Homo sapiens: one gene and its partner. The protein of the gene in region 1 interacts with the protein of each later gene in a pairwise test. Each region holds a gene or a part of one and is shown on either strand. Other genes may lie near its edges.

What was found. Proteins that work in one complex are often made in the same cells at the same time.
Region 2: the proteins of PTP4A2 (region 1) and CNNM1 interact in binary tests that used the Homo sapiens proteins (3 or more experiments, as listed by UniProt).

Annotation. Positions count from the first base shown.
Region 1 is NC_000001.11:31,935,339-31,942,529, forward strand, and holds the start of PTP4A2 (protein tyrosine phosphatase type IVA 2), read right to left. Parts: upstream 3,031-7,191; 5' UTR 2,649-3,030; intron 2,481-2,648; exon of another isoform or gene 2,417-2,480; intron 1-2,416.
Region 2 is NC_000010.11:99,324,668-99,332,382, reverse strand, and holds the start of CNNM1 (metal transporter CNNM1), read right to left. Parts: upstream 3,028-7,715; 5' UTR 2,996-3,027; coding exon 1,423-2,995; intron 1-1,422. UniProt on the Homo sapiens protein: Probable metal transporter.

The DNA of each region.
Region 1 (7,191 bases):
TAGGCCCCAAAGAGCCTCCAGTCAGCATCTCCTAAATGATCCCCTTGCCTCCAGCCTTCTCCATTAGTTTCAACAGCTCTCCTAAGTACTAGCTGCTAGGCCATCACGTTGATGAGAAACCTCAATATAAGAGGAGCTACTGAGAGAGTAGTATGACGTATTGGAAAAATCAAGGGCTTTAGAGTCAAAGACCTGGATTTTTAATCCAGCACTAATTATTATCTGTATGACCTGGGACAAGTTACTTAACCTTTTGAGTTTCTGTATCTCTTCTTCTCACCACTGTAAATCCATGGGAGCTCATCGCTGTATCCCTAGTGCCTGGCAAATAGAAGTGATTCAAAATAAGCTAAATGGATGCAAATGAAGATACCACCTTTCTTGTAGTTGTGAGAATTAAATGAATATAAAAAGCACCTGTAGCACAGGAGGAAATTAATACTAATCAATTCCTTCCCTCACTGAATAGTAACAATACTATTTACTATTTCTTTCTTCTTATTTTTTTTGAGAGAGGGTCTCACTGGCTCACTGCAGCCTTGACTTCCTGGACTCACAAGATCCTCTCACCTCAGCCTCCGGGATAGCTGGAACTACAGGCACGCACTACCACGCCTAACTTTTGTATTTTCTGTAGAAATGGAGTCACCATGTTACCCAGGCTGGTCTCGAACTCCTGGGCTCAAGCGATCCTCCTGCCTCAGCCTCCCAAAGTGCTAGGATTACAGGTATGAGCCAGCTTGCCCAGCCGAAAAATATAATTTCTAACTTTTAATTACACATCAGTGATTTTGCCTGTAATTCTATTATGTTCACTATCAAAAGGACCACCCTCACGCCTGTTAATCCCAGCACTTTGGGAGGCCAAGGCAGGTGGATCACTGGAGGTCAGGAGTTCGAGACCAGCCTGGCCAACAAGGTGAAACCCCATCTCTACTAAAAATATGAAAATTAGCCGGGTGTGGTGGCACACACTTGTATTCTCAGCTACTTGGGAGGCTGAGGCGGGAAGATCATTTGAACCCGGGAAGCCTGGGCAACAAACAGAGCGAGACTCCATCTCAAAAACAAACAAAAAAAAAACAAAAGGACCATACTACTCTTTGCTTATACTGAAAGACTACCAACTTCTATCGCTTCTCGGCCTTTTGGCTAAGATCAAGTGAAAGACTACCAACTTCTAGGAGACATTATTTTTAAGATAACATCATTTTTAAGATTATATCAATGTGTAAAATCCCTATCAAGGTACTACTCTTCAAGAATCCCTACTTTTACAACACAAGAATGGGAAAAGTCCATGATAATAATTAGTCCATTCATTATGAAACTTAAAAATGCCAAGATCAGAATACCAGCAAACAACTTCTCACCATCTTCACCAATACAATGGTGTGCTGGCAAGTGATTCTGAAGCCCTGATAATGTGTCATTCTGTATCCTTAATCTCCTTTTGCACACTCAGCAAGGCATAACTTCACTCACTTCCCTCTGAAACTACTCTCTCTTACAGAGCATGACAGCAAGTACCATATTCCAACTCAGCAGTGTAATGTAGTTTGGCGACTCCGGACAGACAAACATTTGCTGAATGCCTACAGTGACACTAGAATTGCTAGTCACTGCTAATTTCTTGACAAATTCCAGGAAATAATAAACCAGACTACAGTTCAATTTACCTAACAATAAAATACTCTTCACCTGAAAAACTAGCAGTACTTTACAAAAGTTTATGCTCCTGAACACTCTACAGGCCAGAGTGTAGGATTTTGGGCAACAGACAAACTTCTTTTCGTTAGCTCTCAGGGGCCCCAGACTAGGATAGGATGGCATCATTGACAAATTTGAAAATTTACTTTGAAGTCATGAAACGTGGGAGAAAAAAATGTATAGAACAACAACAAAAAAACACATCACATCCTTTCTGGGGGAAAAAAATTAAAATCCCAGAGCCAGAAGATCATAGTGCCGCTGGAGGAGACTTATACCCCCTTTCCTCATACTTGAACCTGAAGACCCACGGACAAGATGCTCCCGGAAAGAACTCCCCAACCCAACACACCAGGGTTCACTATCGCCACACACAAAGACCAAGGGGAAGGGCCTCTAGGATGCCTGCTCACACACTGGACACACGCCGGCACACCCTACCACACTCCTGCCTCTGCCACGCACCTTCTCACCGACACACACCATGTTCTCCCCCCACACTCACCCGCTCTTTACCACACTCTCAACTCTCTCCTCCCCCATTTACTCACTCATTCTACCACCACCCCTCATGCCCACACGCTCCCCACACACCCATACCCTCCCCTGCCCTCACCCACATTCCCCCAACATCGACACTGCCTCCCGACGCGCTCCCACTCCCCCCACCTCCTCGCACGGACACTCAGCCCTGTCCCCCACTCACACGCCCTCCCTTCACCAACTCACTCTCCCCCACGCTCGCACAGCTCTCTCCCTTCCACACACACGAGCCCGCCCCTCGCTCACCCACCCTCGCTCCCCCGCCCCGGCCCGGCCCGGCCCTCCTTCCGGGGACGTGTCTCCGGCCTGCACTAATGGCTGCGGCGCCTCCCGCCCTCCCCTTCCCCGAGGCCCCCGGCGCCGGCGCGGGGGCCGCCCGGGAGGGGCGCACTCACGCTGGCGAGCTGGGGACTGGGCATTGAAGTCCGGCGGTGGCGGGAGCGAGGAGGCGCCTCTCTCCTCAGTCACCTCGGCGGCGGCGGCGGCGGCGGTAGCGGTGGCGGCGGCGGCGACGACTCCCCCCCAGCCTCGGCGCGCGACACCCGGCCCGGCCCGGCGGCGGCGGCGGCGGCGCGTCTCCACGAGTCCGTCTTGCTGCTGCTGCTGCGGCCGCCGCTGCGTCTCCTGCTGCCGCCGCTGCCTCCGCTGCCGCCGCTGCCCTGTGGCGTCACCTCGCGCCGTGCCCGGCCGCCGCTGCCGCTCCAGCCGCTCCCGGACAGACGACGGTTACAGCCCGGCCGATCGCGCCGCCACCACCACCGCTGCGCGCGCAGCCGGAACCAGCTCCCGCCGCCGCCCCTCAGGGGGCGCTGCGGGGCGCGGCGCGCAGGGCCACCGGCCCGCCCTCCGCGTTCGCTGACTGGCTGGCTGGCCGGCTCGCGGGCAGTTGGGCCCGCCCACCTGCCCCGCGGGGCGCTGACCCACTGCCCTGGGCGCCTCCCCCGCTCCTCCTCCTCGTGGTTCGTTCCGCTCCGCACTCCCGGCTACGGAAGGCGAGTCCATGTGATCGGGGAGGGAAGGCAGAACGTGGCCTGGGGAGTCGCTCGCCCACGCTGCGCCCCGCCCATCCGCACCTGGGCTGGGTCGAGGGCCTGCAGCCGAGGTGTGACCTGCAAGGTCGAAGGGTTCTTTCTCGCTACTTGGCCCTAAGGCCTCGGGTCAGATCCTGATGGGACGGGGTGGCCGCCACGTCCTGGGCTTGGGGATTTCCAACTCAGAAGTGGGAACCTGGCCAGCTCAGTTCTCGGCTGCCCTTCCTGAGGCCCCAAATGAATGGCGTGTGCATCTTCGTCGAAGATATTAATACGCCACCCCCAGCTCTGCCCACAAGACACACACCCACCCTAAGAACTGTCCCTGACAAGCCAAAATTCAGACTTTCAGGATGTAGGATCTTGGGCAAGTGATTCCAAGTATTATCAACTATTAAATGGAAATAATAATCAGCTACCTCATGGGCTCTTTCACGTATCGATAACAACGTATGAAAACGCTTGAGAAGGGCCAGGCGCGGTGGCTCATACCTGTAATCCCAGTACTTTGGGAGGCCGAGGAGGGCAGATCACAAGGTCAGGAGTTCGAGACCAGCCTGGCCAACATAGTGAAACCCTGTGTCTGCTAAAAATACAAAAATTAGCTGGGCATGGTGGCGCCCGCCCGGAAGGAGGGCCGTAATCCCAGCTACTCGGGAGGTTGAGGCAGGAGACTCACTTGAACCCGGGAGGCGGAGTTTGCAGTGAGCCGAGATCGTGCCACTGCACTCCAACCTGGGCGACAGAGTGAGACTCCGTCTCAAAAAAAAAAAAGAAAGAAAAAGAAAACGCTTGAGTTGAGAAAGTGAGAAAGAAGAGACCCTGAATTTCAAGCTTTCCGACTTAATGTCACCTTTAACGACGCAGATTATCGTAGAGATTCTCAGGTGGAAAGGTTTTTGCCTCTTGCATTTGGAAGCTAGCCAGAAATTCTTTGCCAGATCATGCGTCCTGAGTTTTGGTTTGGAAAATGTGGTCACTAGCGAGCTAGGAGGCTGGTTTGGGCCACGACCAGATGGCAAAGTGCGGCATTGGAGGCTGGCTTGGGAGGGAGATGTCTCCCCCTGGGAATTGCGGGTTGGGGAGGGTCTGTTCTTTCTGTCCACCCCTGGGAAGTCTTGCCTGCCCAGAACTGGCGCCTATATAGGAAGAAATGAAGATGCTCCCGTGGGTGCTTCTCCCCCACCTCGCCACCACATCCATGCTCATCCAGCCCTGCGGGGAGAAGCAGTGATCTGTCGTCATTAGACCTTCCCCACAAGGTAGACTTGGGGCATTGCTTCTGACCAGAAGGCTTCCATTAGCGCTTAGCAGTAAAAAGAAAGGTCTTATGACTCAGCCGCATCAAGCCACAGCACAGAGTCCAGGATGTTCACCACCAGGTGGCCCAGGAGGGGGTATTCTAGGGCAAGGCTGGCTAGCAGGGCTGTGTGGGAGTTGAGAGAGGCCTTGAGGAGCAGGAGGGGCTGCAGATCAGTAGCAAGGCCCTTAGGTGAGGAGCACAGACTGGGCTCACTTGCATTCTGTCTGCCTCCAGCAAGCAGTATTTTCTACTTCCTGGAAACATAGACTGATTTGAAAGAAAGAGCTACCACCTCTGCAAAACTTTTGCTGCGTCTGTGAGTTATTGATTCTTCCGATAAAGTTGCAAAACACCTTGTGCAATACTCTACCATAGTACTTAACATGGAATTGTAATTGCCTGTTTTCAGATTCTCCCCTGCTTAAATGGATCTATTTGGGGCAGTCTAGCAGATTGTTTGCTTGTTTGTTTTCATCTAGTAGATTGTCTGACCAAGTGAATGACCCTTCCCTCCACCTAGCTCTCCTTCTGGCCCTGAAATAAAATAATGTAATAACAACATTAACAACATAAGGATAAGAATAGTGGCTCCAATAGTAGTTACCTTTACCGCCCCCCCCCTTTTTTTTTTTTTGAGACAGAGTCTCACTCTGTCACCCAGGCTGGAGTGCAGTGGCGGGATCTCAGCTCACTGCAAGCTCCACCTCCTGGGTTTACACCATTCTCCTGCCTCAGCCTCCTGAGTAGCTGTGACTACAGGCGCCCACCGCCACGCCCAGCTAATTTTTTGTATTTTTAGTAGAGGTGGGGTTTCACTGTGTTAGCCAGGATGGTCTCGATCTCCTGACCTCATGATCTGCCCGCCTCGGCCTCCAGAAGTGCTGGGATTACAGGCGTGAGCCACCGCGCCTGGCCTTTTTTTTTTTTTTTAAGACAGGGTCTCACTTTGTCACCCCAGAGGGAATGCAGTAGTGCAAACATGGCTCACTGCAGCCTCAACCTCCTAGGCTCAAGCAATCCTCCCACCTCAGCCTCCCAAGTAGGTGGGTGGGACCATGGGCCCATGCCACCATGCCCAGCTAATTATTTTTTTATTTTTGTAGAGATGGAGGTCTTGCCATGTTGCCTAGACTGGTCTTGAACTCCTGGGCTCAAGCAACCTTCACACTTTGGCCTCCCAAAGTGTTGGGATTATAGGCATGAACCACTGCACCCAGCCATAGTTACCTTTTATTAAGCATCTACTCTTTTTCAAGTCCTGATTGAAACGTTTTAAAATGTTATCAAGGCCCGGCACAGCGGCTCATGCCTGTAATCCCAACACTTTGGGAGGTCGAGGCGGGTGGATCACCTGAGGTCAGGAGTTTGAGACCAGCCTGGCCAACATGGTGAAACCCTATCTCTACTAAAAATACAAAAATTAGCCGAGAGTGGTGGTAGGCATCTATAAGCCCAGGTACTCAGGAGGCTAAGGCAGGAGAATCACTTGAACCCAGAAGGCGGAGGTTGCAGTAAGCCAAGATCGCGCCACTTCACTCTAGCCTAGGCAACAAGAGCAAAACTCCATCTCAAAATAAATAAATAATAAAATAAAATCTATTATCAAGTTTATGATTCAAAATGACCCTATTAAGAAGGTACTATTACCCCCATTAAAAAAGGGAAGTATTATCAACTATTAAATGGAAATAATAATCAGCTACCTCATGGGCTCTTTCACGTATCGATAATAACGTATGAAAACACTTGAGAAAGGCCAGGCGCGGTGGCTCACGCCTGTAATCCCCACACTTTGGGAGGCCAAGGCAGGCAGATCATGAGGTCAGGAGTTTCAGACCAGCCTGGCCAACATAGCGAAAAGCTGTCTCTACTAAAAATACAAAAATTAGCCGGGCATGGTGGCACATGCCTGTAGTCCCAGCTACTTGGGAGGCTGAGGCAGGAAAATCACTTGAACCTGGGAGGCGGAGGTTGTGGTGAACTGAGATCACAACACTGCACTCCACCCTGGGCAACAGATCGAGACTCTGTCTCAGAAAAAAGAAAAAAAAAAGGCCAGTTGCAGTGGCTCACGCCTGTATCTCAGCACTTTGGGAGGCCGAGGCAGGCAGATCACGAGGTCACGAGTTTGAGACCAGCCTGACCAACATGGTGAAACCTTGTTTCCACTAAAAATACAAAAATTAGCCAGGCGTGGTGGCGTGCGCCTGTAATCCCAGCTACTTAGAAGGCTGAGGCAAGAGAATTGCTTGAATCTGGGAGGCGGAGATTGCAGTGAGCCGAGCTGAGATCATGCCACTGCACTCCAGCCTGGGCGACAGGGTAAGACTCCGTCTCAAAAAAAAAAAAAAAAAAAGAAGGAACCAGAGGCTCAGAGAGAAGAAATGACAGAAACAGGATTCACCCCAGGTTTGTCTGCCTCTGAAGCCCAAATAATCATGATATTCGTTTCTGACTTCAGTCAATAACTGGTGTCCTCAGAATAAGCTGGAAACCCTTGTGAAATGCTGAAAAAAATATCTGCCTCTGAGAGGGAAAGGTCCTAGACTATGACACCACTGCCACATTCCCTTACCCCCCGGAAAGCAGAGAGATGCTCTCACC
Region 2 (7,715 bases), on another chromosome or scaffold:
TACTGCTAGCCATTAGGAAGCTATATCTGAAGGCTGAATCTGAAGTCAAGGGATTGATTTTTTTGGTTTTTGTTTTTAATAAACATTCCAACTCATATCAGATGAATGCCTCCTTCAAAGGAGTCATTCTGGGAAGTTCTACACTTATTCTAATTATGTCCCTGTTTTCAAATTATGATGTCTGGTGTTGCTTTCAGGGTTTGTGAGATAGTCTTTTGAATGCTCTCAGTGTTGACTCTTGAAAGTAGATTTGATTTTAAAAAACAATCAAGGGTTCTGGGCCAAATCTGGTGAACTAGGGGGGCGGTCAAACTGTGTAATGCCAAGAGGGGTGACTCTAATGTATCCAGGCTGATTTTTCTTGAGTGAATTTGTAGTCACCAGAAGGCACTTTCTGAAGACAAACTCAGACATGAAGTAAACATGTTATAAGCATGACATCAAGCTTGAGTTTGGGGAGGAGAGTTGGAAGATGGTGACTGCGCTGAAGGAAACCCCACTCATTTGGGTATGCAAGTTTTCTAGGATCTCCTCTACCCAGAATATTTCTTCAGGTCCAGATCTATCCTATTTCACAGGACCACAGTTCCCAGACTTACAAGGATCCTACTGCCTTAGTCAACTTTTAACCCCCAACCTGAGTACTTCCCTCCCCCCCGGGCAAAGACAGGGTCTTGCTCTTTTGTACAGTGGTGGGATTACAGCTCATTGCAGCTTTGAACTCCTGGGCTCGAGTAATCCTCCCGCCTCAGCTTCCCAAAGTGCTGGGATTAGAAGCATGAGCCGCCGCGCCCGGCCCTGGACCTGAGTACTTGATATGTGTGCAATCAATACCTGATGGGAAATTAAGTATGGGGAAGAACGTCTAAGGTGTCTGGGTTTAGTCTACATGATTCAAAAGGCAGAAGAGGTAGAAGGATTTGGAGACACAAATTCTGCTCTATATGAGGAAACATTGTCAGCCACTGGAGCTGTCCAGCAATGGAATTAGTTTGCTCTGTAAATAGTGAGCTTTCGGCCCTGGGAGGAGTTTAAAGCAAAGGCTGCTTGTATGGGAACCTGCAGAGGTGTCTCCTGTAATAGGTGGGGAGCTATGCAATGACCTTCAAGGGCTATCTCCCACCTACACAGTATCTGACATTTGGTAGGCCTTGGAAAAACCTGGTAGAATGGAACAAATAAGGAATATGGTGCATCTTGTGAATCAAGTAGAGAGGAAAGAGGCCTGGGGCTCAATCAGGAGCAAGAAGTGAGGCAGAAGTGAGATGAAAATAGCCAGGGAGCCAAGAGGTAGAGTCTTCCTTGGGTTTTTAGTACCATAGGAGAGAAATTGCTTTGGGTACCTAGAGCCTCACGTGGTTAGGAAAGGATAATACCTTTGAAGGGGATAGGAGTTGGGGGAGAAGATAGACTACTGCTCACCCTTCTTAAACTCCTCCAGAACCGTGTCCAGTCGGGTGTCATTGAAAACACAATGCAGGGGCCGGTTGTAGAAGCGGGTGACAGTGAGGAGCGGGGTGCAGTCGTCGGGGTCCACGAAGGCCAAGTCCTTGACAAATAAAATGTCCACAATGTTGTGCCGCTGGTCACCCTCGTACACTGGGATGCGAGTGTAGCCGCTGCGCAGGATCTCGGAGACAGTGGCGAAGTCGAGCACCGCGTCTGAGCGCAGCATGAAGCAGTCTCCCAGGGGGGTCAGCACCTCCTCCACAACTTTGGTGCGCAGCTCCAGGGCACCCTGTATGATGTTGAGCTCCTCCTTCACCAGGTCACTGTAGGGGTCTGCGGCCCGCAACGTCTCCAGCAACTTCTCCCGCGTGTAGAAGGTGCTTATCTCCTGGCGCAGCGCCCAGTCCAGCAGGCGGCCCAGCGGGTAGCACACGGGGAAGGCGGCTGCCATCAGAAGCCGGGTCAGGCACACGCTGTGCGAGGCGATGGCCAGCCCGTGCCGCGAACACACTGAGTAGGGGCAGATTTCGGCGCCCAGGAATACCGCGCCGGTGCACACGAGCGCCGGCAGCCACGGGAAGTGGATCCCCTCTTCGCTGTAGTCTTCCCCGGTGCCCCCGAAGCCCGGCGGCAGCGAGGTGTACAGCCAGCCAGCCAGGGCCGCGTTGGCTCCGGCTTGGCCCAGGAGTAGGGTGCAGAGCAGATGGGTCCCCCTGCCGCGAACGGCCTGCACGCGGCGCGCCTGCTCCTGCTCGGCGGCCGAGCCGCTGTTCCGCAGCACCCGTAACTCCACCGGGTCCAGCGACAGCAGGCTCAGGCGCAGGCCGCTGAACAGGGCCGACAAGGCTAGCAGCAGGAGCGCCCCGAGCGCCCGCAGCCACGCAGGGGGCAGCAGGTCCCCGCCTGGGCCGTACAACCGCGGGCGAACGCGCAGCAGGAAGCCGCCGGCGGCGCCGTGGTGGTGCCACGCGCGCCCATCCCAGGCGCAGAGTGAAAAGAGCTTCCCGCCACCGCCCGCGCCGCCCCGCTCCGCTTCGCCCTTGCGCAGCTCCCGCACTCGCACCTGGACCAGGGCCGAGCCTGCCACGCCCCCGGGACGCAAGGGCCCCAGGACTTCCACGTCCGATGCCCAGTCGCTCTGCTCCCTGCAGCGCTGCGGTCCCGGGGGGCGAGTGGGGACCGCGCTGGGGGCCACGCCGCCACCGCCCGGGGGCTCCTCGATGAACACGAGCCGCGGAGCCCAGTCGCCGGTGCCATTCTCCCCCGAGTTGAGGGTCGGTGAGGGCACCGGTGCGGCGGTGGCCGGCGGTCCTGGCTGGAAATAGACACGCAGGAGGAAGCTGGTGCCTTCGGCGGCGCGCAGGGTGCCCCCCTCCAGGGACACGCGGCCTCCAGCAGTGTCCTCGGGCCGCAGGCCCAGCAGCCAGGCGGCGGCGGCCGGGGGCCGAGGAGACAGGGAAAAGAAGAGCAGGAGCACAGCGCCTCGGCTGCAGCAGTCCCGGAGCCTGACACCCACCGCTGCTGCCGCCGCCGCGGCCGCCGCCATCCTGCACCCAGCGCAGCTGCACGTGATACTGCAGGAAGCCGAGCGAGAGCTGGAGGGAGGAGGAGCCGGAGCTGGGAACCCAGCCGCAGGCAGGTCACCACGTGTACGCCCACTGCGCGCGTGGGCTGGTGGCGGTGGGCATTCAGACTCCACCTGGGCAGGAGGTCCCCGCTGGAGGCTGGAGGTGGCCAGGCATCACCGCACTGTGCGTAGCGGGTACACACTTCGGTATATCTGAGATGCAGCCTGAAAAGTCTGGGTTTGCAGCATGGCCTCCTACTCCAAAAGTAAGGTGCTCCTCTGCGAACTCCTACCCGGCAGTAATTCCCTGCCGGCTCCACTGCTTCCCCATTGGCCCGGGAAATTTCCCAGCTTTTCGCTTCTCCTGCCACTTGCATTCCCCCTTCTGGTCAAAAGAATATTCTGGAGTCAAGTCTTGAATATGTGAAAACTTTTAGCCTCAACTCCAGCCGACCTTTCATTATTGTAAACATTTCTGGATTATTTAAGTTCAATTCTTAGTTAAGATCCGAATGTCCATCAATAAGAAACTGTTGAAATAAGTGAAACCACTGTGCAATGGAATACTATGCGGCAATAAAAAATAATGCGGTGGATCTGTTGTATATGTGATACGGAAAAAAATCTCCAAAGTAATTGTAGAAACAAAGTAAGGTGCAGAACAGCAAGTATAATATGCTACCATTTGTGTTAAAAGTATTTATGTATAAATTTGTACACACACACACACTTATATGAGATTTATTTATTTATTTATTTATTTTGAGATGGAGTCTTGCTCTGTCGCCCAGGGTGGAGTGCAGTGGCACAATTTTGGCTCACTGCAACCTCCACCTCCCGGGTTCAAGCGATTCTCCTACCTCAGCCTCCTGAGTAGCTGGGATTACAGGCGTGCGCCACCGCGCCCAGCTAATTTTTATATTTTTAGTAGAGATGGGGTCTCACCATGTTGGCCAAGCTGGTCTCGAATCCCTGACTTCAAATGATCCATCTGCCTCGGCCTCCCAGGGTGCTGGGATTACAGGCGTGAGCCACCGCGACCCGCCGTTTACATCTTTTAATTAATTTATTTATTTTGAGACGGAGTTTCGCTCTTGTCACCCAGGCTGACGTGCAATGGCGCGATCTCGGCTGACTGCAACCTCCGCTTTCCAGGTTCAAGCGATTCTCCTACCTCAGCCTCCTGAGTAGCTGGGATTACAGGCGCCCGCCATCACGCCCGGCTAATTTTTTTTTTTTTTTTTTTTGGTAGAGACGGGGTTTCACCACGTTGGCCAGGCTGGTCTCGAACTCCTGACCTCAGGTGATCCGCCTGCCTCGGCCTCGCAAAGTGCTGGGATTACAGGCATGAGCCACCGTGCCTGGCGGGTTACATCTTAATTATAGTACAATATCAAAAGCAGGAAGTTGATATTGGTGTAATGTGTGTATATAGTTCTCTATCATTTTATCACATGTATGGATGTATGTGACCATCACTGCACTCAAAATACAGATCTATTATCACCAAGATCTGGGAGGGAGACTTTCTTATTAAATTCCTTATATTGTTTGAATTTACTCGACTATATTATTTTTATGCATTTATTTTTAAACTTTATATAGTAAAATTCACTTTTTGGTGTACTGTTCTATGAATGTTGACAAATGCATATACATGTAAACATCACAATAAAAAGTAATTCCATCACCACCACCCCCCAAATTCTCTTACCGTCCTATTGTATGTAGTCAACCCCTCCCTTCGTCTTATCCTCTGGGAACTACTGATCTGTTCTCCCCTATAGTTTTCTTTTCCGGATTATCATATAAATGGAGAATACAGTCTGTAGCCTTTTGGGTTCTCCCTTCCTTTACTAAGTTAGCATAATGCATTTACGATTCATCTATGTTGTTGTGATTTTCAGTAGTTCATCCTTTTGTATGGCTGAGTAGCATTCCATTATATGGATGTGTCACTGTTTGTTTATCCATTCAATAAAGGATATTTAAGTTATTTCCAGTTTTTAGCAATTATTAATAAAGTGGCTATGAACATTTGTGTGATGGTTTTTGTGAGAACATAAATTTTTATTTCTCTTGGGTAAATTTATCATAAGTCTGTATTACATTTTAAAATATAGTAATCCTAACTACTTGGTAGGCTGAAGTGGGAGGATCTCTTGAGGCCAGGAGTTAGAGACCAGCCGGAACAATGTAGGGAGGCCCTGTCTCTAAAAAATTAAAAATTAAAAAAAATTAGCCAGGCATGGCGACACATGCCTGTAGTTTCATCTACTTGGGAGGCTGCAGCAAGAGGATCACTTGAGCCCAGGAATTCGAAGCTGCAGTGAGCTATAATCGCATCACTGCACTCCAGCCTGGGCAACAGCATGAAACCTTGTCTCTAAAAATAATTAATAAATTAAAAAGGAAGAGTTATTTTACATACCACCCTTGGCACCTGGGTTTAGTGTAAAATCATCCCTATGTGTGAAATCTCATTTTCCGTGGCATTTGTGACATGCCATTGTCTCAGAATACACTAGATCCTGTCCACTATAAGCTGCTTTTTGCATGGGCTACTTAAGAGACAGAAGGGAGGTTTAATCTTATGAGGGAACATTGAGGCATTTATTCGAAGTATAAGGGAAGGAGAGAACTGGGGTCAACCATATGATTGTTTTTCTTCCTTTCTTTCTTTCTTTTTTTTTTTTTATTGAGACGGAGTCATGCTCTGTCACCCAGGCCGGAGTGCAGTGACGCGATCTTGGCTCACTGCAACCTCCACCTCCTGGGTTCAAGCAATCCTCCTGTCTCAGCCTCCCAAGTAGCTGGGATTACAAGAGTGTGCCACCACACCTGGCAAATTTTTGTGTTTTTAGTAGAGATGGGGTTTCACCATGTTGGCCAGGCTGGTCTCAAACTCCTGACTTCAGGTGATCCACCTGCCTCGGCCTCCCAAAGTGCTGGGATTACAGGCGTGAGCCACCCGCCCAGCTGATTGTTTTTCTTAAGTGCAAAAAAGCGCTTACTTCTCTCCTGACACTTAGACTTCTTTCCCTTCCCAACCTAAACTCCTCAGCACAAAGATACCCGCTATCCTAAGGGCTTTCCCAGCTCTTTTAGACCACAGAACATTATCATCATTACAATACCACGTAACATCTTTAACAAGCTTTAAAGTTATGAAGGAATTTCTTATTTATTATTCCATATACACAAGAGCCCTGGGAAGTAGGTATAATTATACCCATTTTACAGATCAGGTTAAATGACTGGTAAAACTTCTTTGGACCCTAGCTTGATGCTTCCTTTATCTGGTAGAGCTGACGGAAATAAAATGTTTAAAAAATATTAGAGCAGGAATTAAAAAACTGAAATTTCTGGTTATAAAGTATTACATGCTTATTAACAAAAATTTTAATGCAGAAGAACATAAATAAAAATACACCATGACCCACCAACTAGAGATAAACACTGTTAACATTTTTTATACTACTTTTTACATTTTCTACATAGATAAGTAATGGAGAAATACATGCACACACACACACACACACGTGCTCTCCATATAGTTACATATTTTATAATTAAATATGTATTATACATAATTCTAGTCAGCTCCTGCTACTTAACACATCAAGGGCTTTTTCCCCAATGTAATAAAAATCATTCATAAATGTCATTTAAATAAATCAAATATATATGTATTACATATGTATTGAGAAAGAGAGAGAACTGTAAGAATGAGCCTATTCCCAATTGCACCAGCTCTATTATTAACAAATGTTAGGCTTGGAAAATCAATCTACTTTTCTGGGCTCATTTCCTCATTCGTGAAATGACAGTTTTAAGCTCCCTACCCTTTCATGAGTCAGTGAGTAAGGGCTAATGTACACTGTGTGAAGATAATCTAGAGAGACTGAGTACTTTTCCTTTTACTGAATAGGAGGTTCTGGAAAAGTACTGGGTTTCCAGAGCTCTGCTGTAACTGAAAGGATTCCTGGGGACAGGTTCAGGCAGTGTGATTCTCCTAAGGAAGAGCTGCCAAAAATAGCTCCCCAGAATCTGAATGTTTACTGTCTTCTTAGCTTACAAGATGGGCACTTCCTCGCTTCTCAGAGAGATGGAGGAAATAATACTTACTTTTAATATCATGACTATACTATTTCAGAATGTACATGTTAAAATGCTTTTGTTTATTTCATTTCTTGTTCATCCATTCCATAAATATTTGTTAATCATCAAAGTGCCAGGCCTTGTGCTAGATATTGGGCATATCTGACACCATCTTTGTCATCTTGGAGCTTAGATTCTCCTGAGGAAGACAGACATAAACCGGAAATTACCTACCTGCCTAATTAATTAATTATTGCCATGAAGGAGCTGTTCAAAGTGCCCTGAGGGTGCATGGGACCCATCATCTAGGGAAGAGGGTCTGGGAACTCTATCCACAAAAATTAGATGTTATAAAAATGGAAGAATTTATACATTAGGAAGAACATAAAATTATTAAATTTTGTATCTTCTATTCCTTTTTTGTACTTTAAAACTATGACAGTATATTAGTAATATTCCTAATAATGTAATCTGTTAGCTTTTTTTTTTTTTTTTTGAGGCAGGGTCTTGCTCCATCGCCCAGGCTGCAGTGCAGTGGCGTGATCTCCACTCACTGCAACCTTTGCCTCTGGGTTCAAGCGATTTTTGTGCCTCAGCT